7 separate regions of the Homo sapiens genome follow, and regions 2, 3, 4, 5, 6 and 7 are each linked to region 1. Evidence: fine-mapped expression QTL. A gene starts in region 1. Each other region holds a variant in brackets. All regions are shown on one strand. Distances are between the middles of the regions.

Evidence for each region. PIP is the estimated chance that this variant, and not a neighbour inherited with it, causes the effect. A credible set is the group of variants that fine-mapping cannot tell apart.
Region 2: its variant is the best candidate, but not a certain one, in a credible set for the expression of GOLM1 in whole blood (INTERVAL, PIP 0.62).
Region 3: its variant is the best candidate, but not a certain one, in a credible set for the expression of GOLM1 in monocytes (BLUEPRINT, PIP 0.72).
Region 4: its variant is the best candidate, but not a certain one, in a credible set for the expression of GOLM1 in whole blood (TOPMed, PIP 0.78).
Region 5: its variant is the best candidate, but not a certain one, in a credible set for the expression of GOLM1 in gastroesophageal junction (GTEx, PIP 0.70).
Region 6: its variant is the best candidate, but not a certain one, in a credible set for the expression of GOLM1 in aorta (GTEx, PIP 0.81).
Region 7: its variant is the best candidate, but not a certain one, in a credible set for the expression of GOLM1 in whole blood (INTERVAL, PIP 0.58).

Annotation. Positions count from the first base shown.
Region 1 is chr9:86,097,828-86,101,893 of GRCh38, reverse strand. GOLM1 (golgi membrane protein 1) reads left to right here and starts at 2,336. Exons shown (of 10, transcript NM_016548.4): 1 at 2,336-2,483. RefSeq lists silencers at 2,125-2,444, 2,455-2,554, 2,715-2,764 and an enhancer at 2,395-2,895.
Region 2 is chr9:86,060,383-86,064,448 of GRCh38, reverse strand. All of the region lies in intron 3 of GOLM1 (golgi membrane protein 1), which reads left to right. Among named protein-coding and RNA genes, the nearest start is that of GOLM1, 37 kb to the left of the region's middle. RefSeq lists an enhancer at 849-1,765. The variant C/T (reference allele first, on the strand shown) is at 2,393.
Region 3 is chr9:86,049,425-86,053,490 of GRCh38, reverse strand. It overlaps GOLM1 (golgi membrane protein 1), which reads left to right. Exons shown (of 10, transcript NM_016548.4): 4 at 900-954. Among named protein-coding and RNA genes, the nearest start is that of GOLM1, 48 kb to the left of the region's middle. The variant C/A (reference allele first, on the strand shown) is at 2,071.
Region 4 is chr9:85,988,287-85,992,352 of GRCh38, reverse strand. The region is part of intron 11 of NAA35 (N-alpha-acetyltransferase 35, NatC auxiliary subunit); the gene reads right to left. Among named protein-coding and RNA genes, the nearest start is that of NAA35, 49 kb to the right of the region's middle. The variant C/A (reference allele first, on the strand shown) is at 2,063.
Region 5 is chr9:86,031,901-86,035,966 of GRCh38, reverse strand. GOLM1 (golgi membrane protein 1) reads left to right here. Exons shown (of 10, transcript NM_016548.4): 8 at 342-599; 9 at 2,572-2,685. Among named protein-coding and RNA genes, the nearest start is that of GOLM1, 66 kb to the left of the region's middle. RefSeq lists an enhancer at 1-57. The variant T/C (reference allele first, on the strand shown) is at 2,054.
Region 6 is chr9:86,072,557-86,076,622 of GRCh38, reverse strand. All of the region lies in intron 3 of GOLM1 (golgi membrane protein 1), which reads left to right. Among named protein-coding and RNA genes, the nearest start is that of GOLM1, 25 kb to the left of the region's middle. The variant C/T (reference allele first, on the strand shown) is at 2,363.
Region 7 is chr9:85,860,766-85,864,831 of GRCh38, reverse strand. No RefSeq gene overlaps it. Among named protein-coding and RNA genes, the nearest start is that of NAA35, 78 kb to the left of the region's middle. The variant T/C (reference allele first, on the strand shown) is at 2,437.

The sequences.
Region 1 (4,066 bases):
AAATAAATAAATAAATAAATAAATATTAAAGCCTTTAGGGCTGTTGGGATGGAATAAATGTATTTTGTATGTGAGAAGGATATGAACTGGGGGTGGTGGGGGGCATAGAAGCAGAATGCTATGGTTTGAATGTGTGCTCCATAAAGCACGTGTTGAAAACTGAATCTCCAGTGCAACAGTGTTGGGAGGTGGGGCCCAAAGGGAGGTGTTTAGGTCATAAAGGCTCCACTCTTATAAATAAATTAATGCCAATTATAGAGGGTTTGAGGCTGCAAGTTCAATTTCACATACACCCTCTTGCCCTTCTGCCTTCCACCACAGGCTGATGCAGCAAGAAGGCCCTTGCAAGATGCCAGCACCTTGATATTAGACTTCCTAGCCTTCAGAACTATGAGAAATACATTTCTTTTCTTTATAAATTACTGAGTCTGTGGAATTGTGTTATAGCAACACAAAATGGACTAAGACATTAAGGAAAGGATGCTTAACAGGCAAAACATGGATGCTTCCTTCAACCAACCACTGTAGCCCCTTGCACATTGTTTAATCAAAACCCATCCAATTGAATTTTCAGGGCCAGCAACTGATTAGCTTTTTTATAAGGAATGTAAATTATGTATATAGATATATATAAAACTGCATCTTAAAATTTTCAACTTTTGTCATAAAGAATCTAACGAAAAGGACTAATTCATCTTCAATTAAAATATAGCTCATTCAGCCAGCTGCCTTAGCACCTAGACATATGGACCTGTTCCATAAAGTGTTTAAGAATCACTGAGTGAGTCGCTAATTAGTTGCTGATAAATGAGAGACTAATGGAGACCCTCCTTAGAGCCAAATGATATAGAAGTTACAGTCCACCAGTCTAAGAATGTAAACTATACTAAGAGAGCTAAAATGGGCAAGAAAGGGAATTTCCTGTACCTGTCCCCGATTATGGTTATTTAAGCTCACTAGAAGATCAAAGTGACACAACTTAAGTCTGCAAAACCAGGGCTGACATCTGATACAGCCTCAGCTTCTGAATGCTTTGGTCTGACCCTACAACAGTTTAACAGTTGCAGATAACAAAAATATCATTTTGGAATATAGTAGAACATTCCTCTAAAGGGGTCATGTATGGTCAGCTTCTAATTCAGCTAAGAGGTTTTAGCTGGTAAAGATACGTTTCCTGCAGTTAAGAAGCTCCATGCTCAGGTAGCAATAGGGTATCTTGATCACCTTTTTTAAGGTGACTCTTTGTTCTGGTTAAAATCAATTTCAGCTGTGAGCATTCCTTTAGGTGTTCATGTATTTACTTGTTTTTTTATTGTGATTTGAGAGAGGCGCAGAGGAAGGAGTTTCCTTTCCCAGACACCAGAGCTAGGAAGACATGAAGACATGATTCTAGGAAAACTGTTCTCAATCTTGGCCGTATACTGTATTAGGATTATCTGGGAAGCTCAAAACAAACAAAAAATATCAAGTTCACTTTGAACTCTGGAAGTGGGACCCTGGTTCCTAAATGCTCTAAAAGCTCCCCAAATAATTCTAATGGATGGCAGGTGCTGCCAGAGTTAAGAACCATTGCTTTAGAATTTTCTAGCATGGTTTCCCTGTAGGTCACTAGTTTTGTGGCATTCTCTCCGGGAGGTACGGCCTCATAGGGCTTCTCAAACATCAGTGCGCCTGAGCGTCATCTGAGGCGCTGTTTCAAATGCAGCTGCCCGGGCTATAAGATCACACCCGAAGGCGTCCGGGAATCTTCACTTTTTCCGTTGCTAGCAGTGGAAGGGTCACAGACCAAACACTAAGGCCTGAGCGGTGACAACCGAGGCGAGATGATGGTCAACAGGGAATGCCTCGTGGGAGAAAAAAGACAATTTTGTGAGTATAAGCCCCCTAAAAACCTGTTTTTCGTTCGCTTCCTTCTCTGGGCAGTTTTGACCCGACGACTTTTATAAAGAAGGTAACGTGAGTGTGGCGCTGGGTGCGGTTGGCTGTTCGGGAACATTCCCTCGGGGCGGAACGTGGGATGGGGGCTCCCCCCAGGTACCCTTTCCCCACAGCCGCTTCCCCGCTCCGCGTCGCTGCTCAGGCGCCAGCTCCCGCGTCGGAAGGGGCGATGGGGTGGCCCGGGGGAAGGGGCAACGCCCAGCGGCGAGAACTGGGCGCACGCTGGCGTTCCTGCTCCCGCCGAGGGGCGGCCACCGGCCGGGGCGCGCGCACCGTGGGGCCGGGAGTCCGCGCGGCCCCGGCAGCCCCTGCCTCGCTTCTCCGCGCTCGCGGCGCCGCCTCCTCCCTTCGCGCCGCCGGCGCTGCTCGGGGGCGGGGCCTTGCCGCTGCGGAGGCCGGAGACGCGGCGGCGCTGGACGCGGAGGCGCTGGGCGCACGGCGCGGAGCCGGCCGGAGCTCGAGGCCGGCGGCGGCGGGAGAGCGACCCGGGCGGCCTCGTAGCGGGGCCCCGGATCCCCGAGTGGCGGCCGGAGCCTCGAAAAGAGGTGAGTGGGCGGCGCGCGGCCCCAGGCTGCCCGAACCGCGGTCCATCGCTTCCTCCCTCCTTTGCCCAGGGCCCGTACCCCGCGCGCCGAGACCTCGCGTCGGTCCCCGGAGCCTCCCCGCGGCTTGCGCCGGGGCTGCAACCTTCGCTGGCTGCGCTCGGGGCTGGCTCCGCACCTTCCTGCACCGAGTAGCCCGCGGCTGCCTGGGCCCCTCGGCTCGCTCCCCAAGACCGGGCGCGCGGCCCCCTTGCCCTGCGATGAGGGGCCTCGCGAGGATTCCCTGCCCTGCAGTCTCAGGCGATGCGGGGCCTGTCTTTTTGTTCTGAGCTTTGTCACGCGCGTCGGCATCCAAAGTCAAAAGCGTGCACCCCCTAAGTCGCACTAGTTCCAGTTCTGCAGCGTGATTTGCACCAGGCGCGGGAGGCTGGCCGAGCCGCGAGTCTCTCGGCTCCCGCCGCCTCTTCCTCCCCTCCAGCCCCAGGCGCGCTCCGGCCGCCCTGGGGTCCACGTTGCCGCTGGGCCTCGTGGCTGGTGACCCCGGAGCTTGGGCTCCGGGTCCTCCCGCCGCGCGTCCAGAGCGCGGCTGCATCCCGTTCTCGTGGATGCTCGGGGTTTTCTCGCATACCTGTGTTTCCACCTTTGCCAACGTGGAGGATCCACACAACTTTGCCCTGCTGTAAAAATCATATCCCATTTAATATTTTTAATGATTTGCTTTTAAGAAACAAAATGTGAAGAATAACAATTTTGATGAAATTTTTTAGCAAAATTTAAGAATTATTATATTTGAAATACCATGATGATGCTGGACAATTTCAGATGTCCCATAGCCAGATTTGCAAAACTAAACTTGTGTGACTTTCACGATTTTGAGGTTTTCTTTGTCTGATTTGGGGTCCCTAGGCCCTACATTATGCACATTATTGAGGAACATTTCTAGGGCTGGATTAGTGAGATACACAATAACCTGATGAAGTATTTAGCAGCGCTTGAGTGGCTTTGTTTAGCTCATGGCCATCAGGTTGGCTCAAATCTCAGTTTTAGTATTTCTGAATTTTGGAGGGCATGGGACAATCTCTTGTCAGTTTTTGTGGGTCTCCAAAGGCATCCTAGCTTCTTCCAGTTGTGTTATAAAAGATGAAGCTAAGCTCATTACTTTCTTTCTTAATAGAAACTAGTAACTTGCTAAGACTTACTGTTTTTAGGCCAGACACTCAATTCTTAAGGTGTCAGTGAACAAAAATTGAATTGTTAGGATGGTTAAAGAAAAGAGGTTAGCTTTTAAGATACATTTTGTTCTCCTATGGAGAGGTTATCCAATTTTCACATTTTTTTTTAAAGTTGGTTTTACAGGAAAACGAAAGAAATGAGAGGAAAGTAGTGCTGAGGGTGGGGCCAGGAAATTGTGGTGACTTGGATATTAAGGGCCAGGGATACCATCTGCTTTCTAATGGCTGGTTTAGGTCCAGTTATTGATGGGAAATGAAAAGATTTTGCATTTACATTCCACCCGCTGTTGTTGTTGTTGTTGAGGGCTGGGCAGAAACAACAGTTAGGACAGCTGACCATAGCAGGCCCAGGGC
Region 2 (4,066 bases), 37 kb after region 1:
CAAAGTGAGCAGATTTGGGAGGCAGCCAAGAGGAGGGATCAACAGGCCCCGTGACAGATGGGATAGGTGCGGGAAAGTGTGAATTGAGCAGAATGGAAGCAGGTCAGTAAAATCCATTGAAAATTTGCTGCCCTGAAAATAAAAGTGTTTGTCTCAGAAGACTTCTAGTCTTTTTAGATTGGAAATTCTCCAGTTTGTCAATTGGATTCAACCTTCAAATACAGGTTTATAATTAAACTCAAGTAATTTGCTTCCCACACTTAAAAATACATTTGTAGGAGAAGCAGCAAACATGCCATTCAGGTAGATGTCCTTCACTGCAGACTGTGCCTCAGTGGGTGTCCTAGTGCTGGGTCCTCACCTCCCACCTCCAGGGAGGGGCCTGAGCCTGTCATGGGATGTCCTGGACCTCAGGAGAAGACTCAGATGCCTATTTGATTCAGGACGTGGTTTGATTTTTAAACATGCCATGGACAAGTTCCACATGGAAAGCATTGTCGTGCAATGTGAGGTTGCCCACGATGGTTAGCGGCTGACCAGACGAGGCATGGATTTCATGTGCATTGATCTCTGTTCCTAATGGGACAGAACCAAATCCTGCAGGTGTCCTCGCTCTTGGCCTTGGCTTCATACGCACTAGAAAGAGCGTTGGCGTGTTTGATTGCCATAGAAGGCGTAACGGAGGCTTTGGGTTTTGCTGTTGTGGTTGGCTTTTGTCTTGTTCTCTCTTCACACAGAAAATTGCTTGAGTGACTTGGAATTGACTCCGTTTACCTTCTGTAATTCTTAACCCAACCCAAGACAGGCGTTTGATGGGAAATACGTAAAGAAAATAGGAGGTAGCTGTTTTTTCACTTACCGTCTCTGGCAGGGATCTGCAGTCATTCATGTTTAAGAACAAACAGTAAGTAGGGTCTGTTAGGTGCCTTGACTGTGACGCTGTAACCTGTACACTTGGTTCAGTTTTAGTTTCTCTTTCATCCCCAAAGGTCTGTGTACGCCTTTTTACCTGTCTGCAGAAAGTCAGAATGTACAAAAGTGTCTCCTCTTCCGCAGGTGGGAGCAGGGAAGCTGCTAGGATTCCCGTTTGAAAATGGAAACCCCCAGTGCCCTCAGGTGGCTCAGCCCTGGGGTGCCCATTGAGATTGGGAGTCTGCAGCCCCAGGCCTCCAGCCCTTGCACAGGGCATTTCCTGGCTGGTTAAAGAACAGCCAGGGAACGAATATCCAGATTGCTGGTGCTGTGTTGTAATCCGGCATTCTTCTTCCTCTAAAAACGGAGCTGGAGCTTTTCAAGCCCCCGCTCCTGGGTCAAGCCCTGTTGGCAGTGTGTGGGGTGCTCCTCTGGTTCGGCAGCTCCTCCCCTGCCATCTCCTTAAGTGTTCAGGAGTGAGAGCAGCGGGAAGAGCTGAGGGGCAGCTTGGGTGGTGCTGCAGAGGGGACAGACCAGTGTGAGCTGCTTCAGGGGCAGCCAGGTTCCCTGGCAGCTGGGTGATGAGGAGACCTTCAGAAAGATCCAGGGTCAGGGACTAAGAAGACAGGCGCTCGTCCACTGCTAGAGAAGCCTCAAAGTGCATTCTGGGGTTCCCACTGTCCTTCAGGTTTGGATCCTCCTGGAAGTTTTATTTGACCCAAGTCACGTGTAGGTTAGAGGCACAGGGGCAGGCTGCTACCAAAGGAGACAGTGTAGCAGGTTCTCAGAGGCAAGGGCAGCCCCCCCCGTTTGCTTCTCCTCCTTTTTCCTTCCTCCTGCCTCCCCTCCCTCCATCCTTCCTCTTCCTTTCTGTCCCTCCACCCCTCTCCCTTCCTTTGTCCTTTTCCTCCCTCCATCCTCCTCTTGCCCTCCTCCCCTCCAGACCCTGTCTCTCTCCTCTTCCTTCCATCCCTTTCCTCCATCCTACTCTGTCCTCTTTTCTTCCCTCCTCCTCTCCCTCCATTCTCCCTCCTCCTCTTCCTCCCTCCTCCCCCGTCCTCCCTTCCCTCTGTCCTCCTTTCTCTCCCTCTCCTCACCATCCTTTGCTCTCTCCTTCCTCCCCTTCCCCTCCTCCCCATCCTCTCTCCTCCCTCCCCAAAGCACCTGCAGTGTGCCCTGTGCAGGAGATGCTGGGGGAGGGTGTGAGCCAGTCTTGGGTTCAGGCCCCCTCGCCATCAACCCTGTGCTTATGTCTGTGATGGCCACCACACCTCATGGACCTTGTTCTGCCAAGCTGGGCACCCGGGTGACCCCAGGGCGGGTCCTGGGAGCATCCTGCACTCTCCCAGCGAGGTGCTTTCCCACACCCGCCAAGCTGCAAGGTGGATGGGGTGGGAGGATGTTACCTTCCCTGTGACAACACAGGGATGTGTTGGCAGGAGCTATTCTGGGCGTGTAGCAACTGTGTCTGTGTGTCCTA[C/T]GTGTTTTCCTGGATAGATGGTGTTTTCTGAAGCTTTGTAGAAAGTTACACTTAATCTCCCGACGCCCTTCCATTTAAACTTGGTGACTTGTGCACACTGTCCCATAGCTGCAGGTCCAGACCCGCCTTTCTGCCCATCTGGGTCCCCTGCCCTGAAGCCTCCTCAGCTGCTCTCTGACCAGGATCCTACCATTTACGCTGACATTTGACTCTATCCCCTAAACCTTTAGCCACTCCTCTCCTCCTGTTGGTATTCTCACACTCAGTTCAACTCACACTCACAGACACTCATTCACACTCTGACCCATGCCCCCATATTTGGGTTCCCACTTGAGGTGTCTGTAAGGTGCCCCTTTAAATAAAACTCAGCAGGCCACCCTGCTTAGGTTCCACTTTGGGGAAACAGAGGCACAGAGAAGTTAAACGAAGCGTCCAAAGTCAAGGAGCAAATTAGCAGCAGATCCCAAACCGGATGCCACAGTCTCAGGTCTTCAAGAAAATCTCTCCCATCCCGGTCTTCCCTCTGCTGCCCTCTTTCTCTGTTACTCGTTTTTCTTTTCTTTTTCCTCCCTTTATCCTCATTAGTGAGCTTCGAAGGCCATTTGTCATAGTTGATAATTGTTGATGGAGCTATACTATGAAAAGAAAATTGCTTAATTTTAGGAGTGAAATTACAAATGAGAAATACTGCAGCAAAGACCTGCCCTTCTAAAAGTTCTTGAATCTACCTCAAATTTCTCCAGACAACAGGTTTATCTCAGCATCTTCTAATTCACCTTTCTTTTCCTCTAAAACCAGCCTTGAAGTTAAGATTTTTAAAAAATTGTACTTGGCAGATTTAATTATCAATGTGGCAAGCTTATGTGTGCCTGTGTGTGTTGGCTGATTGTAGAAAACCGTAAACATGAAAAGGTAGACAGAGTGACCCAGTGAGCCCCCACACATCCAGTGCCAAGCTTCAGCGATTACAACTCGTGCCGTTTTAACCATGACTATTTCAGCACACGTCCTGAAAAGGTGGGATTGTCTGTCTCTCATAGCCACAATACCATGATCATACCAAAACATCCAGGAATTCCTCATGTCAAGTATTCAGTGTCAGTCACAACATTTCTGTGTTGTGTAACTTCTTCTTCTTCTTCTTTTTTTTTTTTTTTTTTTTTTTTTTTTTTTTTTTTTTGAGAGAGTTTCGCTCTTGTTGCCCAGGCTGGAGTGCAATGGCACAATCTCGGCTCACCGCAACCTCTGCCTCCCAGGTTCAAGCAATTCTCCTGCCTCAGCCTCCCAAGTAGCTGGGATTACAGGCATGCACCACCACACCCAGTTAATTTTGTATTTTTAGTAGAGACGGGGCTTCTCCATGTTGAGGCTGGTCTGGAACTCCTGACCTCAGGTGATCCACCCGCCTCGGCCTCCCAAAGTGCTGGGATTACAGGCGTGAGCTGCTGCGCCCGGCCTGTGTGTTATGTAACTTCTTAACCCACAAAACATAATCATGTCATCTTTAGGGGCTTGTGGACTGGACTAGTTTCCTCATCACTTTGTGCCCTTGTCCCTATGGGAACATGCATCCAGCGACCCACCATTTGGCTCAGTGGTGGCTGTAGGCATGAAGCATTTGGGAGTCACTGCTTGTCTTGTTGTTTGTGTGTGTGAATGAGTGTGTGAGTGTGT
Region 3 (4,066 bases), 48 kb after region 1:
TGATGTGTGTGGTATGGAGTGGTGTGGTGTGATGTGGTTTGGTATGGAATGGTGTGTGGTGTGGTGTGGTTTGGTGTGAAGTGTGTGGTGTGGACTGATGTGTGGTTTGGTGTGTGTGGTGTGGAGTGGTACGTGGTGTGGAGTTGTGGCGTGGTGTAGTGTGGTGTGTGGCCTGCTGTGGTTTGGTGTGGTGTGTGGTGTGGAATGGTGTGTGGTGTGGTCTGGCGTTGTGGTGTGGAGTCATATGGCGTGGTATGTGTGGTGTGGAGTGGTGTGATGTGTGTGGTTTGGTGTGGAGTGGTGGGTGTGGTGTGTGGTTTGGTGTGAATGTGTGGTGTGGAGTGGTGTGTGGTTTGGTGTGGTGTGTGGTGTGGTGTGTGTGGTGTGGAGTTGTGGCATGGTGTAGTGTCGTGTAGAGTGGTGTGTGGTGTGGTCTGGTGGTGTGTGGAGTCATATGGCGTGGTGTTGTGTGGAGTGGTGTGTGTGGTGTGGTTTGGTGTGTCGTGGTGTGGTTTGGTGTGGAGTGCTGTGTGGTGTGGTGCGGTGTGAGGTTGCTGATTAGCCCTCTGGGTGCCCAGAGCCTCTGCTGTGTCGGGCAGGAGGAAGGAGGGCCTGGCTGGCCCTTTCCTGGAGGAGCAGCGTTTCCTGGGCTGGAGTGGGGTCTGGACCCGTTGGCTTTTGCTCGGGTCCAGAGGCGGTGGTGGGGAGCGGATCTCTAGGTCGGCCTGTTCCTTTTCAGCAGCAGACATGGGAGGGCCCAGCCTGAGCGCTGAGTGCGAGCTCCTTCCCTGACAGCAGCGCTGGGTTGGGGACAGGCCCCATCATTGGTTTGTATCACATCTGGCTGTCAGGCTGAGGTGTTGGTTTGGGTGTTTCATGCGAGTTTATCTTCGTTGCAGGCGGTTTTGGTGAATAACATCACCACAGGTGAGAGGCTCATCCGAGTGCTGCAAGGTAAGTTCCGCTCGCTCCTCCACACCAGGCACTGGCCTTTGAGGAGGAAACTCCCTTTCTCTCCTTCTCTAGGCCCAGGTGGGTCTCCATTATAATCTCATGGCGGATAGTGTCATGAGTCATTGAGCAATCTTTATTCTTTTTGCCTAAGTCTATCTCCTTAAGAGGCTTTTCCTTTTAAAAAAAAATATTGCCAAATACATTGCAAGCTGTTAGGTACAGAAGAGTTAAGAGTGTCACTCATGAATGTGTTAAGAGATAGTATTTATGATAGGTACATGTTCTGTTATATATACATATGGTATACATGTGACCTGTTAATTTGGTCATGCTGAATTTAGATTGTCTGCATGAAACTTAGAAAAACTGTCCAGCCCAATTTAATTCCCCCTCTTTGCCGCTCTGACTCAACTTGGCAGCTGGGGATTGGTCTTCCTTTGAGTCCTTCTGAAGCAGCCACAGAGCAGGAAATGGGGTGCTGTCCTTTGTCGGGGGCTCCTTCCACTGTGACAGGAGTGACAGGAGGGTCAGCAGGGTCCATGCTACTGGGCTAAATCATCTGTTGGGTTGAATAATTTTTACTCTAAAAATGTGGTTACTGGGAAGTTAAAAATTCCTTATATGACTTGCATTATAATTCTTTTGGTCATTGCTGGTTTCGAATTCTAGTTCTAAGTCAGGTTCTAAGAATATTAAAAAGTCTTATGTGAAAAGGGGTCACTTTGTGAAATGTGTTTGTGTAACCCTACGTTTCCCACAAAGTTGAAGAGGCTGCCTGGCTGCGGGGGTGGGAGTTGGGGGGTCTCACATAAAGGTTCAGTTTGACAGCGGTTTTGATAGAGCATACATGTCAAGTAACTCCACCAGAGTCAACACAGGGAGCATATTCATCACCCCCAAAAGCTTGCTTGTGCGCCGTGGTGATCCACTTCCCTCAGGCAGCCTCTGGTCTGCCATGTAGACTAGTTTGCATTTTTAATAATTGGGTGCGTGCCCCAGATTCATAAAGCAAGTCCTTAGAGACCTACAAAGAGACTTAGTCTCCCACACAATAATAATGGGAGACTTTAACACCCCACTGTCAACAGTAGACAGATCAACGAGACAGAAAGTTAA[C/A]AAGGATATCCAGGACTTGAACTCAGCTCTGCACCAAGCAGACCTAATAGACATCTATAGAACTCTCCACCCCAAATCAACAGAATATACATTCTTCTCAGCACCACATCGCATTTATTCCAAAATTGACCACATAGTTGGAAGTAAAGCACTCCTCAGCAAATGTAAAAGAACAGCAATTATAACAAACTGTCTCTCAGACCACAGTGCAATCAAATTAGAACTCAGGATTAAGAAACTCACTCAAAACCGCTCAACTACATGGAAACTGAACAACCTGCTCCTGAATGACTACTGGGTACATAACTAAATGAAGGCAGAAATAAGGATGTTATTTGAAATCAATGAGAACAAAGACACAACATACCAGAATCTCTGGGACACGTTTAAGGCAGTGCATAGAGGGAAATTTATAGCACTAAATGCCCACAAGAGAAAGCAGGAAAGATCTAAAATTGACACCCTAACACCACAATTAAAAGAACTAGAGAAGCAAGAGCAAACACATTCAAAAGCCAGCAGAAGGCAAGAAATAGCTAAGATCAGAGCAGAACTGAAGGAGATGGAGACAAAAGAAACCCTTCAAAAAATCAATGAATCCAGGAGCTGGTTTTTTGAAAAGATCAACAAAATTGATAGACCACTAGCAAGACTAATAAAGAAGAAAGGAGAGAAGAATCAAATACATGCAGTAAAAAATAATAAAGGGGATATCACCACCGATCCCACAGAAATACAAACTACCATCAGAGAATACTATAAACACCTCTATGCAAATAAACTAGAAAATCTAGAAGAAATGGGATAAATTCCTGGACACATACACCCTCCCAAGACTAAACCAGGAAGAAGTTGAATCTCTGAATAGACCAATAACAGGCTCTGAAATTAAGGCAATAATTAATAGCCTACCAACCAAAAAAAGTCCAGGACCAGGCAATTCACAGCCGAATTCTGCCAGAGGTACAAAGAGCTGGTACCATTCCTTCTGAAACTATTCTAATCAATAGAAAAAGAGGGAATCCTCCCTAACTCATTTTGTGAGGCCAGCATCATCCTGATACCAAAGCCTGGCAGAGACACAACAAAAAAAGAGAATTTTAGACCTATATCCCTGATGAACATCGATGCAAAAATCCTCAATAAAATGCCGGCAAACCAAATCCAGCAGCACATCAAAAAGCTTATCCAACACAATCAAGTTGCCTTCATCCCGGGGATGCAAGGCTGGTTCAACATACGCAAATCAGTAAACATAATCCATCATATTAACAGAACCAAAGATAAAAACCACATTGATTATCTCAATAGATGCAGAAAAGGCCTTTGACAAAATTCAACAGCCCTTCATGCTAAAAACTCAATAAACTAGGTATTGATGGGACGTATCTCAAAATAATAAGAGCTATTTATGACAGACCCACAGCCATTATCATACTGAATGGGCAAAAACTGGAAGCATTCCCTTTGAAAACAGGCACAAGACAGGGATGCCCTGTCTCACCACTCCTATTCAACATAGTGTTGGAAGTTCTGGCCAGGGCAGTCAGGCAGGAGAAAGAAATAAAGGGTATTCAATTAGGAAAAGAGGAAGTCAAATTGTCCCTGTTTGCAGATGACATGATTGTATGTTTAGAAAACTCCATTGTCTCAGCTCAAAATCTCCTTAAGCTGATAAGCAACTTCAGCAAAGTCTCAGAATACAAAATCAATGTGCAAAAATCACAAGCATTCCTATACACCAATAACAGACAAACAGCCAAATCATGAGTGAACTCCCATTCACAATTGCTTCAAAGAGAATAAATACCTAGGAATCCAACTTACAAGGGACGTGAAGGACCTCTTCAAGGAGAACTACAAACCACTGCTCAATGAAATAAAAGAGGACACAAACAAATGGAAGAACATTCCATGCTCATGGATAGGAAGAATCAATATTGTGAAAATGGCCATACTGCCCAAGGTAATTTGTAGATTCAATGCCATCCCCATC
Region 4 (4,066 bases), 110 kb after region 1:
GGGTAGAATAATGGCTTTATCTTTTATTCAATAAGTTATGATCTGTCAGAATTATTTACTTTGATGCTTAAGTTTTTGCTAATTTTGACCACGTGAGATCCCCTTCAAGTTCTTTTCTATATCCAACTGATATGTTCCTATTATTTTATTCATTTATTTTTTATTATTTTTTTTTTTTTGAGACGGAGTCTTGCTCTGTTGCCCAGGCTGGAGTGCAGTGGCACAATCTTGGCTCACTGCAAGCTCTGCGTCCTGGGTTCACGCCATTCCCCTGCCTCAGCCTCCTGAGTAGCTGGGACTACAGGCGCCCGCCACCACACCCGGCTGTTTTTTTGTAGTTTTAGTAGAGACGGGGTTTCACCGCGTTAGCCAGGATAGTCTTGATCTCCTGACCTCGTGATCCGCCTGCCTTGGCCTCCCAAAGTGCTGGGATTACAGGTGTGAGCCACCACGCCCGGCCCATCCACCTCTTTTAGAAGGACACTTATGATATTTGGGTACAGCCAGACAATCCATGATCACCCCCTCATCACAAGACCCTTAACAATCACATTTATAAAGATCCCTTTCCCAAATAAAGTAATATTTACAGGTTCTGAGAAGTAGAAATAGGACCTTGATAGCTTTGGGACCATCATTCAGTCCACTACAATCTCCTATCATTGACATGTTAGGCCACCATAACCTCCACTCCATTTGGCACTCCTCTAGAGATGCTCTCCTCACCCCATCTAAGCTCTGATACCCCACAACAGGCCACCTTTCTGCACAGAAGCTTTTCATCAGTGTGCTTAGGCTACAACTTCCCACATGGAGCCACCTTTCTACTTTTCTCTTCCTGCTTAGGCTTTGACATCTCATGCCATCCAGTCCTCCTGGACAGCCTCTTCCCCCCACTTATGATCTGACACCCCATACCTGGGAAACCTTCCACAATGACACCTTTTTCAACATGCTTAGGCTCTGAAACCCTGTACTTGGTCACCCACATGCACAGATGCCCTCATTACCTGGCTTGGTCTCTGACAGCCCTGCACACAACCACCTCCATGAATTTACCTCAGGTTTCACCACCCTACTCTGCCAGGCTCCATTAACATGAGCCTACCCTGCCTGGACTCCCACACCCCATGCCTCTCTCTACTCCCTGCCTTTATACTCCAAAACCCTGTACTAGACTGCCTTCCCATAGACACACCCTCCTCATCCTACTTAGGCTCCTGACATACAGTGCCAGGTTGTTCCCACATGGTCCCCTTCTCAATCCTGCTTAGGCTCAGGCACCCCAAGCTCAGCTACACTCCTGTGGAAATACCCTTCTCCACTCACTTTAGAAGCAGTGAATCCAGTTAGGCTACCGATTCACAGTGATGCTCTCAAGGTATCTTGAACTATTCCAAACTCCTGCTCTAGGTTTATCTCTTTGCAGATGCCCTCCCCATTCCACTACCATTCTACATGGACACTTCCTTACTCCACACAGACTCTGATGGCCCATGCTAGGCCTCACCCTGCTACAAGTACACTCCACCTACCCACATGGTTACAACACCTTATGTCAGGCTACTCCTATCTCCCATGTGGACACCATCATCATCCCTAAGGCAGGCTCCAAAGTCTCGCTCTAGCGCACATGCCCATTGTGCTCAGGCCCATCTCATGGCATTAGGAGTGAATTTTTTCAAGAAGAGAAGGAAAGAAGAGCAAGAATCAGAACTGAGTTTTGTTATCACTAAATTGGAAATACATGGTTCCCTTTGTTATCTTTAAGATCATTCATTCTTTGCTGTATTTTCCTTCTGATAATTGAGAAGTCTTTTATTAATTTTGTATCTACAACTTTATTAATATCTCTAAAGTTCTATTCCTTCAGAAAGGTAGCTGTTAATCTTCTTACCAATAATAAACAATGATAATGCTAAAGACCTCCCTTTACCTTCCTTTGGTCATTGCTATGGTTTGGATGTGTTTTCGTCCCCACCAAAATTCAAGTTGAAGTTTAATTGCCAGTACAACAGTGTTGAGAGATGGGGCCTAACAGGAGGTGTCTGAGTAAAGGGGG[C/A]AGATGTCTCCTAAACAGATTAATGCCTTCTCACTCTCGTGAGACTGGATTAGTTCTCACAGGTACGGATTAGTTCCCATGATAGTGTATTGTTAAAAGGGAGGTTCTTTCTGTTTGGTCCCTCTTTCCACATGTCTGCTTAACTTCTCTGCCATGTTTTGACCCAGTGCATGGCCTCACCAGAAGCTGAGCATGCACCATGAATCTTGAAATTCCCAGGCTGCAGAACCATGAGCTAAGTAAACCTCTTTTAAAATAAATCACCCAGTCTCAGGAACTCTGTTACAGCAACACAAAATGAACTACGACAAGCACCAAACTTGAATAATCTTATCTCTATCGCCATTGGTTACCTCCACATGTTGAAATATACCTATCTTTATATTACAGATGATTTCTCAGCTTTAACCAGTATCTCTGGACCCCTGCATATAAAAGAAAATTAGTCTTCCCCGTTACTTCCTGACTTTGGTTAATTACTTTTATATTGTCAAGATTCTTGACAGTTATGTTACATTATATTTAGTAAAACCAATTTCCACCGTTTTAACCACAGTTCTACAATGAAACAGAATCAATGCTCAATGCCTGTCCTTCTGCCACAGCTTTTCCATTTATGTCTCAGTAGGCTGAATTTCATTCCTGATTTCAGTCTTTCTCCTCCAGGAAAAAGGTCTTTGGAAAAATATTCCAAGTTCTTGCTAGTTTAAAAATATTTCTACGAGTGTCACTCAAAGACCTTTGGAATGGGTGTAAAACTCTTAGGTCACAGTTTTTTTGTTTTGTCTTTGTTTTTTTTTGTTTGTTTGTTTTTTGTTTTTTGACAGAGTCTCACTCTGTCACCCAGGCTGAAGTACAATGCTGCGATCTCAGCTCACCATAACCTCTGCCTCCTGGGTTCAAGCGATTCTCCTGCCTCAACCTCCCGAGCAGCTGGGATTACAGGCGCCCACTACCACGCCCAGCTAATTTTTCTATTTTTATTACAGACAGGGTTTCCCCATGTTGGTCAGGCTGGTCTCAAACTCCTGACCTCATGATCCGCCCACCTTGGCCTCCCAAAGTGCTGGGATTACAGGCGTGAGCCACCACGCCCAGCAGGTCACAGTTCTTTACTTGAGGACTTTGAAGATATTGTTACACTACTTTCTGTGTTGATGTTGATGTGAAGAACCATGAAGCCAATATAATAGTTGCTTTAGATCTTAATTTACTAGGCTCTATTTTACTATTAATAATTCTTTATCAATTTATCCTGGAACACATTATACTCTTTCAATGGACACTCATGGATTTAATTCTAGTTTCTTCTAGAAATGTCTAACATTTTTTTCTGTTCCATTATACTGTTCACATCTTAAGGGACGCCAATCATATGTATACTGAGACTTCTTTTGCTATTACTTTCTCATCATACTTCACATCTCCTTTGCTCACTTCTGCTTCGCTTAGTTTTTTCCTCAATCCTGACCTCCATGTCCTTTTTTTTTTTTCGAGACGGAGTTTCACTCTTGTTGCCCAGACTGGAGTGCAATGGCGTGATCTCGGCTCACTGCAACCTCCGCCTCCCAGGTTCAAGCGATTCTCCTGACTCAGCCTCCTGAGTAGCTGGGACTACAGGCATGCACCACCACAGCTAATTTTGTATTTTTAGTAGAGATGGGGATTTCCCCATGTTGGTCAGACTGGTCTCAAACTCCCGACCTCAGGTGATCTGCCTGCCTCGGCCTCCCAAAGTGCTGGGATTACAGGCGTAAGCCACCACGCCCGGCCCTCCATGTCCTTTACGGCTTTTCAGCAATGTCTAGAATGCTTTTGCTATTTTCAATGAGATCTCTCAGGATTTTTCTCTTCTACTGCTTTCCTGAACTCTGCCTGGTCACTTTTACTCCCTTTCTATTATTCATTACTTCTTCTTTTAGTCTTAATATTTTCGCTTTCTGCTCTTGTTCTATAGAGGCCATTTTTAAATAAATTCTTTCAATTTCTGTACAAAAGTGTTTC
Region 5 (4,066 bases), 66 kb after region 1:
CCGATGATCAGGTCACTCAGCAGGATACCCTTTTCCCTTTGTACCTTGTCAAGGTAATTTAGTCCAGGTGTTTTTTTTTTTTTGTTTTGTTTTTTTTTTTGGTAAGCTACTTTTCCCTTTGTCGCGGTTCTGACGATGAGCTGCAGGCACAGAAAGGCCTGCAGTCTGTGGCTGAGGTCACAAAAGGAGCTACCTGGTTGTTCTCCTGTGTGCAGCCCACCCCACCCCCACTCCTTGGGAAGGCTCTGGGAATTGAGTGGCACCAGGTTTTGCTTTTTTTTTTTTTTTTTTTTTTAAATCAAATGCTGGCAAGGTCACAGCTAACTGTGTTCTGTGCACAGAGGAAACCAATGAGATCCAGGTGGTGAATGAGGAGCCTCAGAGGGACAGGCTGCCGCAGGAGCCAGGCCGGGAGCAGGTGGTGGAAGACAGACCTGTAGGTGGAAGAGGCTTCGGGGGAGCCGGAGAACTGGGCCAGACCCCACAGGTGCAGGCTGCCCTGTCAGTGAGCCAGGAAAATCCAGAGATGGAGGGCCCTGAGCGAGACCAGCTTGTCATCCCCGACGGACAGGAGGAGGAGCAGGAAGCTGCCGGGGAAGGTGGGTGTGAAGTTTCGGGGGCCGCTGTGGACTCCCTTCCACCAGACACCCAGCCCACCTCCATGTCCTTCCCAGCACCAACATATCACCCTGAATTTTACCAAACAGCAGTCCACAATTTGCCAATTCCTTTTCGTTTGAAGGTTTCTTATTCGTTATCAAGAGGGAGGCAGGAAGGAAGAGCAGCATATGCTCTAGAACTCGAGGTTTTAGATGCAATATTGGCAGGGAGTCGAGGGGACCTTGCAAGTGGATGGCCTGCAGATGGGTGCTTAGCATCAAGTGGACGCCCCCTCCTGGCAGGCAGGCCACATGCCCCATTTTTGTATGTCCACCGTCGTGCAGTGTCTGGTGCCATTTAGACAATCAGTGCCTAGTGAATGAATGAAGGAAGGAAGGAAGGAATATTGGGTAGATGAAGGTTAATGCATATGTGAACATTGAGAAAAAATGACATGTGAATCACTCCTTTTTGGTTTGGTTGACTCTTTTCTTTTTAAAGAAATAAAGGGTAGGAATTGGAGATCAACCGACTATTCCAGGATGTATTTCAGTCCCTTCAGATATGGAAAATGTCCTTCCCACCTGAGCCAGGAACACTTCTGAGGACATGACACCTGCGCTCTGGGGTGGACCAAGTCACAGAAGTTGGAGAATACACTTATTTGCAGAAGTTACCTTGATTCCATTTAAATCTAATTTTCACTTCAGTGTCTTACTGAAGAACGTGTCCTTCCAAGTTCCAGTTAAAGAATTGGATTTTGTCAGCCTCCCCCTAAGTATCCCTGCTCTGTCCTTGTGTTCCGTGCTCACCCAGCAAGAAGATGCTTGTGGTGTGTGAGGCGGGGAGATCTCACTGGCTCGCTCAGCCTGTGGCGCTCCAGTGTCAGACCCCTCAGCGGCTGGTCACAAAGCGTAACAAAGGTGGGCCTGAGATGCCACAGTGCCTGCAGGATGCACCTGCTTCTAGATGCAGGTGTGGTGACCTCATTTGAAGAAACGCGGTGGACACATAGGCCTGTGCAGTTTCCACCCCAGGCAGTGAGCCAGAGAAAGAGACTAGAGCTGCTTTTCCAGGTGTGCACTTTTAAAAAAGATTTTGTTTGGCCGGGCGCAGTGGCTCATGCCTGTAATCCCAGCACTTTGAGAGGCCGAGGTGGGCGGATCATGAGGTCAGGAGTTCAAGACCATCCTGGCCAATATGGTGAAACCCCATCTCTTCTAAAAATACAAAAATTAGCTGGGCATGGCAGCACGTGCCTGTAATCCCAGCCACTCGGGAGGCTGAGGCAGGAGAATCGCTTGAACCCCGGAGGCGGAGGTTGCAGTGAGCCGAGATTACGCCACCGCACTCCAGCCTGGGCGACAGAGTGAGACTCCATCTCAAAAAAAAAAAAAAAAAGATTTTGTTTACCAGCCTGCATACACATATAAAATATGTAAGTTAAACCCTT[T/C]GAGTAGGTCTCTTGAAAGCCTTTTGTCCTCATCTTCTCTGGCTGCTGCCCACTCCAGGGAAGAATAGAGTAATGGGTGCTCTCATGCTCTAAGTATGAGGGACACCTTCTCACGTGTCTCACAGTGGCAGCTCCATTTCCTCTCTCCATTCTAAGGAGATGCTGTCATTAGCTGTAGATATCCGTTCCTTCCTAAAACAGTGGCACCTTTCTTTTATCTTGAGTTGATTATCTCTTTAAAAAATTGAGATTTGGGTTGTTAGTTTCTCCATGTTCTGCCTAGAATGCACCCTTGTATTTAGGGCCATGCTGTCTGTAGATTCCGAGTCCAAGTGGAGTACACATAATGCATGTGCTTGTCCTGGAAGCCAGCCCTTGCGTCCCTACCATTTCCAGAGAGGCAGCAGACAGATCTGATTGTGAGCAAGTATGGCTAACCCCCAGCACTTGTGCTCTGATAGTCCTGTGACATCAAGACAGAAATGATGTAGCTTATGTTTTATGTGCTAATTTTACAGGGAGAAACCAGCAGAAACTGAGAGGAGAAGATGACTACAACATGGATGAAAATGAAGCAGAATCTGAGACAGACAAGCAAGCAGCCCTGGCAGGGAATGACAGAAACATAGATGGTAAGAATGGGGCCTACATCGGTGACGAGGTCACCTTTCATTTCTCTTTCCTGGTCCTTCACCGTGATTATCCAATGAATCCCCAAAATTATATTGTAATTAATGGGTCATTTCAAGGAGATCGTCTGTTCTTTAGGAGCTTTTAAACCAGGGGCAGTGGAGGGAAGTGAGGGTTGAGAAGCCCAAGGTGATGAAAACCATTCGGAAAGTCTGCATCGTTTCTAGAAACATATTCAGTGTGGCTCAACTCTTTAAGTAGGATGATTTTTCAGTGACATTTAGGGATTTCCCAACAAAATGGCTAGGTCACTACTTGATCAGTCTGCCTCCCAGATGAGAAGCCCCAGTATGTGCATAGAGCTTCCAAGCAGCTATGAAAGCTGCCCTTTGTATTATTATTTTGAATTTTTGAAGAGTCCAGGCCAGTATCTTGTAGAATGTATCAAACTCTGGCCTTGTCTGTTTGCTTGTGGTGGATTCAGGCTGATGAATTCTTGCTTCTCCCCAGGAGGCATAACAGCAGGTGGTCCTACAGGTGATTGGTTGATCCCTTAGCTAACATGGTGCCCACAAGGTCTCAGAAGGCCATTTTCCTTTTGATATTAATACGTCATCTAGAAGAGGATGCTTTGAACTTGTGTAGCTTTACCATCCATTGATGAACATTGCCCAAGTGGTGACATTTTACATGCTGCCATCACAGCACATTTATTACCTGACATTTTTTAAGGAACTCCTCTCCCTCCTCCAACACACTTGTTTGTTTTGGTATCACTATGGACTCATAGTATTCTTTCTTAAAATTCATTTTTCTGGGCCAAGTGTGGTGGCTCACACCTGTAATCCCAGCGCTTTGGGAGACCAAGGCAGGCAGATCAGCGGGTCAAGAGATTGAGACCATCCTGGCTAACACGGTGAAACCCCGTCTCTACTAAAAAGAGAAAAAATTAGCCAGGCGTGGTGGTGGGCGCCTGTAGTCCCAGCTACTCGGGAGGCTGAGGCAAGAGAATCGCTTGAACCCGGGAGGCAGAGGTTGCAGTGAGCTGAGATCGCACCGCTGCACTCCAGCCTGGGCAACAAGAGTGAAAATCCATCTCAACAACAACAACAAAAGAATCCAAGCCATGTGACTGTAGTTTCCCACAGCCTGAATACTGCTGATTATAGAGTCATGGGGGAGTTGAGTGAGTTCGCCTGGTCTCTGTTTTCTGTAGAGTGGCAGCTATACCCAGAGACTTGATGAGACTCAGGTCCTGGCTCAAGCCCTCGGTAAGGTGAGTGGTGGTGTGTTCTTTGGTTCTTTCATCGGGAGGCACGTCATGTCTGGCGTCTTTTTTTTTTTTTTTTTTTTTTTTTGAGATGGAGTCTCGCTCTGTCACCC
Region 6 (4,066 bases), 25 kb after region 1:
GAGTGCTAGGATTACAGGCATGAGCCACCGTGCCCGGCCTGGTTTTCTTATGTAGGAATATATGACTATACTTTCTTTATTAAATTGTGTAACTGTGTGAGTTACTAATATCTCCTGTCCCAGAGTGCATCAAACTTTGGCCTCTATTATTAACTAGAAAAATTTGGCTTTTTTTTTTTTTTTTTTTTTTTTTTTTTTTTTGAGATGGGGTTTCCCTCTTGTTGTCCAGGCTGGAGTGCAATGGCGCCCTCTTGGCTCACTGCAACCTCTGCTTCCCGGGTTCAAGCAATTCTCCTGCCTCAGCCTCCCAAGTAGCTGGGACTACAGGCATGTGCCACCACGCCCAGCTAATTTTTTGTATTTTTTAGTAGTGATGGGATTTCGCCATGTTGGTCAGGTTGGTCTCGAACTCCTGACCTCAGGTGATGTACCCGTCTTGGCCTCCCAAAGTGCTGAGATTACAGGCATGAGCCACCGCACCTGGCCTGAAAAATTTGGCTTTTATAATGCGTGTACCTCTCTCTCTGGAGTGGCTAATTTATTGGAAGAATGTTGTAGCTCAACTTCCATTATCTTGAATTGTCTCAGAAAATGAATTATTTCCAGGAAGGGACTCAGACTTTTCTCGCATAACTGATTTAAAATTCAAGAAGTACTTTTTTTGTTGTTTAATTTGCAGAGTACTTTCCTATATTTGCAAGCTCATATTTCTTCTCTGGGAATTGTGCATAATGTTGTTGTAATAAAGTGCTTCTTTATGTTTCTTCCCTTTTCTTACTGGTGAGATATGCTTTTTGTGCTCCTGAAATCCCCTTTAACCTCATCTCTCAAAAAGAAAAAGAAAAAAAAGAGCATCAAGTAGTTATTTGAAAAGAGAATCTGTTTCCACAGTTTTTCTCTTTTAGAATATGCGATATAAATGTCTTTTCATTTTGGTGAGCAAGGGTGGGTTCTCACATCAAACCTTAGCTGCAGGAGGATTTTAGCTGTGGTTTGGTGGTAGGAGGCATGGAACTTGTGAGTCAGGCAGACCCGGGTTTAAAGTTCCCTCAGCTGTGTGATTTTAGGCAAGTCACTTAAATTCTCTGGATCTGTTTTCTCAACTGTCAAGTGGAAATGAGAAAGGAATCTCACAGGGTGCCTGTGAGGATTGAATGAGATAATATTTATAAAGCGTTTAACCCAGTGCTCAACCTAGAATGAAAGCTCAGCAGCTGGTGGTTGGTATTATTACACCTAATTGTACCAACGGCAGTCGAGGCCATGATCACAGCAGCAGTGGTGGGCGCAGTCGTAAGCCACCGCAGCAGCGGTGATAATGTTATCTCTTTCTGTATGGACTTTGTCTTAGTCTGTTTAAGGCTGCTATAACAAAATATCATAAACTGAGCAGCGTATAAACAACAAGTATTTATTCTCACAGGTCTGGAGGCTGGGAAGTCAGAGATCAAGACGGGGCAGATTCATCTGGTGAGGGCCCACTTCCAGGTTCATGGATGCCTTCTTCTTGCGGTGTCCTTGCCTGGTGGAAGGGGCAAGGCAGCTCTCTGGGGCCTCTTTTATGGCACTAATCCCATGTATGAGGGCTTGACTCTCCCAGAGGTCTCGGCTCCTAACATTATCGCCTCCATTTGGTATTTGGTGATTTGGTTTCAATGTGTGGATTTTGAAGGACACCCACACTCAGACCGTAGCAGATTTTTTTTTTCCTCCCAAATTGAAACCATGAAACCAAATTGTGCTAGCTTTAAAAAGAGTTAGGAAGACACTGAGGGAGGTGGAACCAAGAGCAAGCAGTGTGGTGGGGCTATGGAAGGAGAACGATGACAGGCACCACACCAGCCACAGGAGTGAACGTTTCCTGAGCCTGTGCTTGGCCAGACGTGAGGCTGAGCATTTCACAGGGACTGTTTCATTAATTCCTCCCAGCAGTCTGACGAGATTGGGGCTCATATTATTAGTGAATGGAAGCTCAGAGAGTTAGCAGCTGTCACCAGGATGACACCTAGACCCTAGAGAGCCCCCAGGCCAGCCTCCACCCCTGCACACTGGCCGCCGCCTTCCTTCAGTGCAGACACAACTTCTTGGCTGCCCGCACCTGAAGGGCGCCAAGGTGGAGGGGAAGGGGGATAGAGGAAACCAGATGGGCTTGAGTTGGTCAGTGCTGAAGCTGGTGATGGGTACATGGGAGTTCAGCATGCTAGCTTGTTTACCTTTGTCTGCATTAAAGACTTCACAGTAGAAACTTTAAAAACATCTTCTTTAGATCTCCTTGCTTCCAAAGACTGCTGTGTTCTAACTAGCTCTATTTTGGCTACATGGATGGGCTTATCCTTCACCTAAATACTTTTTTATACATTGT[C/T]TGTCTTTTTTTTTTTTTTTTTTTTAAATCTTAGAAGGTTAGCATTTGTGGTTAGAACTGGAACAAGTCTCCTTAAAAAAATTTTAAAGAACCATGGTGATTCTCAGCCATGGGAGGAGCTGGGGTGTGGGGACCTGTGGCTGGGGGTGGTTTGCAAATGACACCTGACCTAGAGATTTCCCTGCCTGTCTCTGCCAGCGTTCCTCACCTCAAGCAGTCACTGTCACTCTGGGTAGGTGTTATATCCCTCAAGTTGGGGGCTGGACAAAAGCTTGGAAACCAAACCTGTCATCAGGGAAAATGTGAACAAACACCTGTTCATAATGAAATTACTGCTTTGGGTAGGCCCTGTCTGATAGAATTTTCTATGATGGCAGAAATGTTTATAGTACAGTAGCCACCAGCCACATGAGTCTAATGAATACCTGAAATGTGGCTAGTGGGACTGAAGAACTGAATTTTATTTAATTTTATCGAACTTAAATGTAAATAGCCAAATAATGGTCACATTGGACAGCACGGGTTTGTGTGGTTGGCAGAATGCTGGGGAAAACCTTGTTTGGGCCTCTGAGTCATAGGGAGCCATGTTCCTCAGTGGAGCGGAGGGCAGAGTCTGAGTCTCCTGTGGTTCCTTGGTGCCTTTCCCCCTTCTCTGTAAGGTTCGGGAGCAGTGTGGGCAATTGGGCAATGGAAGATGAAATCACCTTCAACCTGGGGAGTTGTGCACCCCCCTGAAAGTAAGTCTCTGCAGCTTGCTGGTGTTCTGATGCAGAATGATCTGTTCAGCTTATCAAATCAGCTTTTGTTTACACCCCAGCTTGGGGTTTTGATCTTATTTGTTATGGAAGTTGTTTCAGAGCAATCCGTCCTCACCTGGCTGCTCGTGATAACCACCTGCGAGCTTATGAACAAAATACAGATTAAAAATATACACTAGATCAGACTCTCTGGATGTTTGGGCTCAGAATATAGAATTTTTAAAAATATCTCACATATATATAAACATACACATATTCATACATGTACTTTTTTTTTTTTCTAAACTTCCAGACCACTGTGATGCAGCTAGCTGATCTAGAAACCGGTGATTGAGATCAAGTGTTTTGCAGAATTACACTTTTAAAAATAAAAATGCATTGTCAAGGTTATCTTTTTTTCAGTTTCCTTTTTACCCTTCTTCAGTGAAGTGATTTAAAAATTAAAGGGCATTGTAATTAAGATGTATGCAGTCATGCGCCACATGTGATGTTTTGGTCAATTATGGACCCATCAAATTCTAATCTTTTCTATGTTCAGATACACAAATACTTACTACTTTTACTGTATCTTTTCTGTGTTTAGATACACAAATACTTACCACTGTGTTACAAGGCCTGCAGTATTCAGTACAGTCCCATGCTGTACAGGTTTGTAGCCTGGGAGCATTAGGCTGTAGCATACAGCCTAGGTGTACAGTAGGCTATAATATCCAGGTTTGTATAAGTGCATTCTATGATGGTTACACAAAGACAAAATCTCATAATGATGCATTTCTCAGAGCCTATCCCCATCATTAAGCAATGCATGACTGTAATTCATCTAAATGTAATTTGATAGAGCTGTTACAAAGTAATTGAGTTAATGCTTGTTTTTCTGAGGGATTTCTTTCATCTTTACCCACATTTACTGGAATCCTTGAACATTTTTCAAAGCTGTGCCAGATTG
Region 7 (4,066 bases), 240 kb after region 1:
TCTCCTTTTTTCTTTGTTAATCTAGCTAGCAGTCTATCCATTTTGTTTATTTTTTCAAATAACCAACATTTGGTTTTGTTGATCCTTTGTGTGAATTTCATTCAGTTCTGCTCTGATTTTAGTTATTTCTTTTATTCGGATAGCTTTGAGGTTAGTTTGTTCTCATTTTTCTAGTTCCTCTAGAAGTGATGTTAGATTATTAATTTGAGATCTAACTTCTTGATGTAGGTGTTTAGAATCATAAACTTTCCTCTTAACACTGCTTTTACTAACAAAGAAATTCTAGACTTAAATTGAACACTTGACCAATTGGACATAATAGATATCTAGAAAATACTCCACCCATCAACCATAGGATATATATTTTCTTCACATGGGAAATACTCAAAGATTGACCATGTGCTCAGCCATAATGCAAGTCTCAAAAAATTAAAAAAGATCGAAATTGTACCAACCATACTCTTGGACCACAGCGGAAAATAGAAATGCCAAGAAGATCTCTCAAAACCACACAATTACATGGAAATTAAGCAACTTGCTCCTGAATGACTTTTGGGTAAACAATGAAATTAAGGCAGAAATTTAAAAATTATTTGGAATAAATGAAAACAAAGCCACAACATAACAAAATCTCTGGGATGCAGCAAAAGCAATGTTAAGAGGGCTCTGTGGTTTTGACAGTGGCAGCTTCATTGCACAGCTGTAGCTCTTGCAAGATGGCCCATCCTCTCCAGCTCTGCACTATCTGTGCTCCGGTAACACTATTTCCTCCCCTGCATCTTCAGCCTTAGAAATGGTAACAGAGTCCCACTGTTGCAAGCTCTAGGTGGCTCAATGTTCTTTGCTTGGTCCTTTCATGAAGGAACTCTTTAAGTAGTTCCCTCATTAAAGACTTTTCATTTGATATATTTAAGCCTCATGCCTGTAATCCCAGCACTTTGGAGGCCGAGGCAGGTGGATCACCTGAGGTCAGGAGTTCGAGACCAGCCTGGCCAACATGATGAAACCCTACCTTTACTGAAAATAAAAAAAATTAGCCGGGCGTGGTGGCGTGCATCTGTGATCCCAGCTACTCAGGAGGCTGAGGCAGGAGAATCGCTTGCACCCGGGAGGTGGAGGTTGCAGTTAGCTGAGATTGTGCCACTAGACTCCAGCCTGGGCAACAAAGCGAGACCTTGTCTGACCAAAAAAAAAAAAAAAAGAAAAAAGGAAAAAAATAAAAAAAAAGAAATATTTGAGCCTAATTTTATTTATTGCCTGGACCTCAAAAAATACAGCTCACCTTATTTACATTCTATTTTCAACATTAATATTGTCTTTCTTAGTGTATTTTACACTATTCTACTTAAAGATGGAACTGAATTATTTAAGTCAACAAATATTAATTGAGCACTTACTGTGTGCAAGGTACTATGTGACTATTTCAACATAGTGGTTATACGGTGGTAATTGAGACAATAAGGTCTCTGCCCTCATGGGGCATGTTTTAGTCACTTTGGGCTGCTAAAACGAAGTACTATAGACTGTGTGTCCTTGATCAAGCAGCCCTCAGAGTCTAGTGGAGGCAACAGATGTACATAAATGGCCAGCTGAAGACATATCAAGGGAACTGTGTGGTTACAGGCATAATTCTAGGTGCACAAAGACACTTAGTATAGGTCATTCATTCATTCATTCACCATTTACTAAACCTTATACCTTCTACCAGATCTTTAGGAGGAACTATCTCTTTATGATTATTGTGATTCGAGTGCAAAATAATTAATGCATCTCCAAAAGCGAAATCTTCGTACAGCTACCTGCCAATTCTCTACCTTTGCTATAAGCATCTTTTCTGCCTGAGACTCTCCAAAGAGAGCTCCCTATTTGTTTTTTCCATGGCCTCCCACATATATTATCTGAGGGTTATGAAACCTCTCCCTCTAGAGAATGCAAATGATACTCTTACAGATTAACAGAATGTTAGCTCTGAAAGAGATGTTATTGTTTCTCATAAAAGTTAATATTTGTCTTCATATCATGAAAAATGAATAGGGTGGTTTGTGATTAGAAATGGCAGGCTCAGGACCTCCAGCTGCCCTGAGGGCTGAGGGCTCAATACTTCTGCATATCTATAGCCAGAGCAAATACATTACTAACAACTTTTACTGCACAGGCACCTACCAATCAGAATGAGCACAGACACCGATGTCAGACAGGGGCATCCAGATGACTGGCAGCCTACCCATAAGCCATTCCTGTTACATTAATGTTTCTTGGCCCATCTGCTTAAAAATACTACCTTAGAAGCCAATAGACACATGAAAAAATGCTCATCATCACTGGCCATCAGAGAAATGCAAATCAAAACCACAATGAGATACCATCTCATGCCAGTTAGAATGGCAATCATTAAAAAGTCAGGAAACAACAGGTGCTGGAGAGGATGTGGAGAAA[T/C]AGGAATGCTTTTACACTGTTGGTGGGACTGCAAACTAGTTCAACCATTGTGGAAGACAGTATGGTGATTCCTCAAGGATCTAGAACTAGAAATACCATTTGACCCAGCCATGCCATTACTGAGCATATACCCAAAGGATTATAAATCATCCTGCTATAAAGACACATGCACATGTATGTTTACAGCAGCACTATTCACAATAGCAAGGACTTGGAACCAACCCAAATGTCCATCAATGATAGACTGGATTAAGAAAATGTGGCACATATACACCATGGAATACTATGCAGCCATAAAAAAGGATGAGTTCATGTGGTTTGTAGGGACATGGATGAAGCTAGAAACCATCGTTCTGAGCAAACTATCACAAGGACAGAAAACCAAACACCGCATGTTCTCACTCATAGGTGGGAATCGAACAATGCGAACACTTGGACACAGGGTGGGGAACATCACACACCAGGGCCTGTTGTGGGGTGGGGAGACGGGGGAAGGATAGCATTAGGAGATATACCTAATGTAAATGACGAGTTAACAGGTGCAGCACACCAACATGGCACATGTATACGTATGTAACAAACCTGCACGTTGTGCACATGCACCCTAGAACTTAAAGTATAATAATTATTTAAAAAAAAAAAACTACTACCTTAGAAGGCTGGGCACGGTGGCTCAAACCTGTAATCCCTGCACTTTGGAAGGCTGAGGTGGGCGGATCACCTGAGGTCACGAGTTTGAGACCAGCCTGACCAACATGGAGAAACCCGTCTCTACTAAAAACACAAAATTAGCCAGGCGTGGTGGTGCATGCCTGTAATCCCAGCTCGTCGGGAGGCTGAGGCAGGAGAATGGCTTGAAACCGGGAGGTGGAGGTTGCGGTGAGCTGAGATCGCACCATTGCACTCCAGCCTGAGCAACAAGAGTGAGACTCCATCTCAAAAAACAAACAAACAAACAAAAAAAACTACCTTAGAGATTGTTTAGTCCAGCCCTTCTGTTTATTTTTCAGATCTTTTGTTTTACAAAAGAGAGACCTAAAGTCCTTAGAGGTGACAAGACCTACCCAAGGGCATATACTGAATCTGGGTTTCTCCCCACTAACTCCATCTAGAGATGGCACCTCTTTATTACTGTAAAGTCCTTCAGAAAGCTCTTTGTCCCAACTCTCTGATCCTTTTTTCATTTTCTTCCTTTTGGCTGCAAAGCCCTCCATTCCATTTATCCACTCCCATTTCCTTCTTCCCTCTTCGTAACTTCCTATTCTTCCTTCAAAGCCCTCAGTTCTAACTAATTAGCATACTGAAGCTGAAGCAGCATATTTTGGGGTGGCACTCGAAAGCCAGAACTGACCTTAGGTTTCTCATTCTAAGAAAATGTATGTAAATTGTTCAGCACAGTTTCAGCAAATGGTAATAAATAATAGCAATTATTATTATTATTGTTCTTTTCAGCTCTGTGACTGTGAATAGGTTACTTAACATCTCTGCATCTAGTTTATTCATATGTAAAATGAGAAACTTCCCCAGGGTCTTGCCCACAATGCTGACAGGCTCTATGAGGGTCGTCCAGCAGTCACGTAGGGAATTGGTGGGGGATGCTCTCACAGTGGTCAATTAAACCATGGAGGGT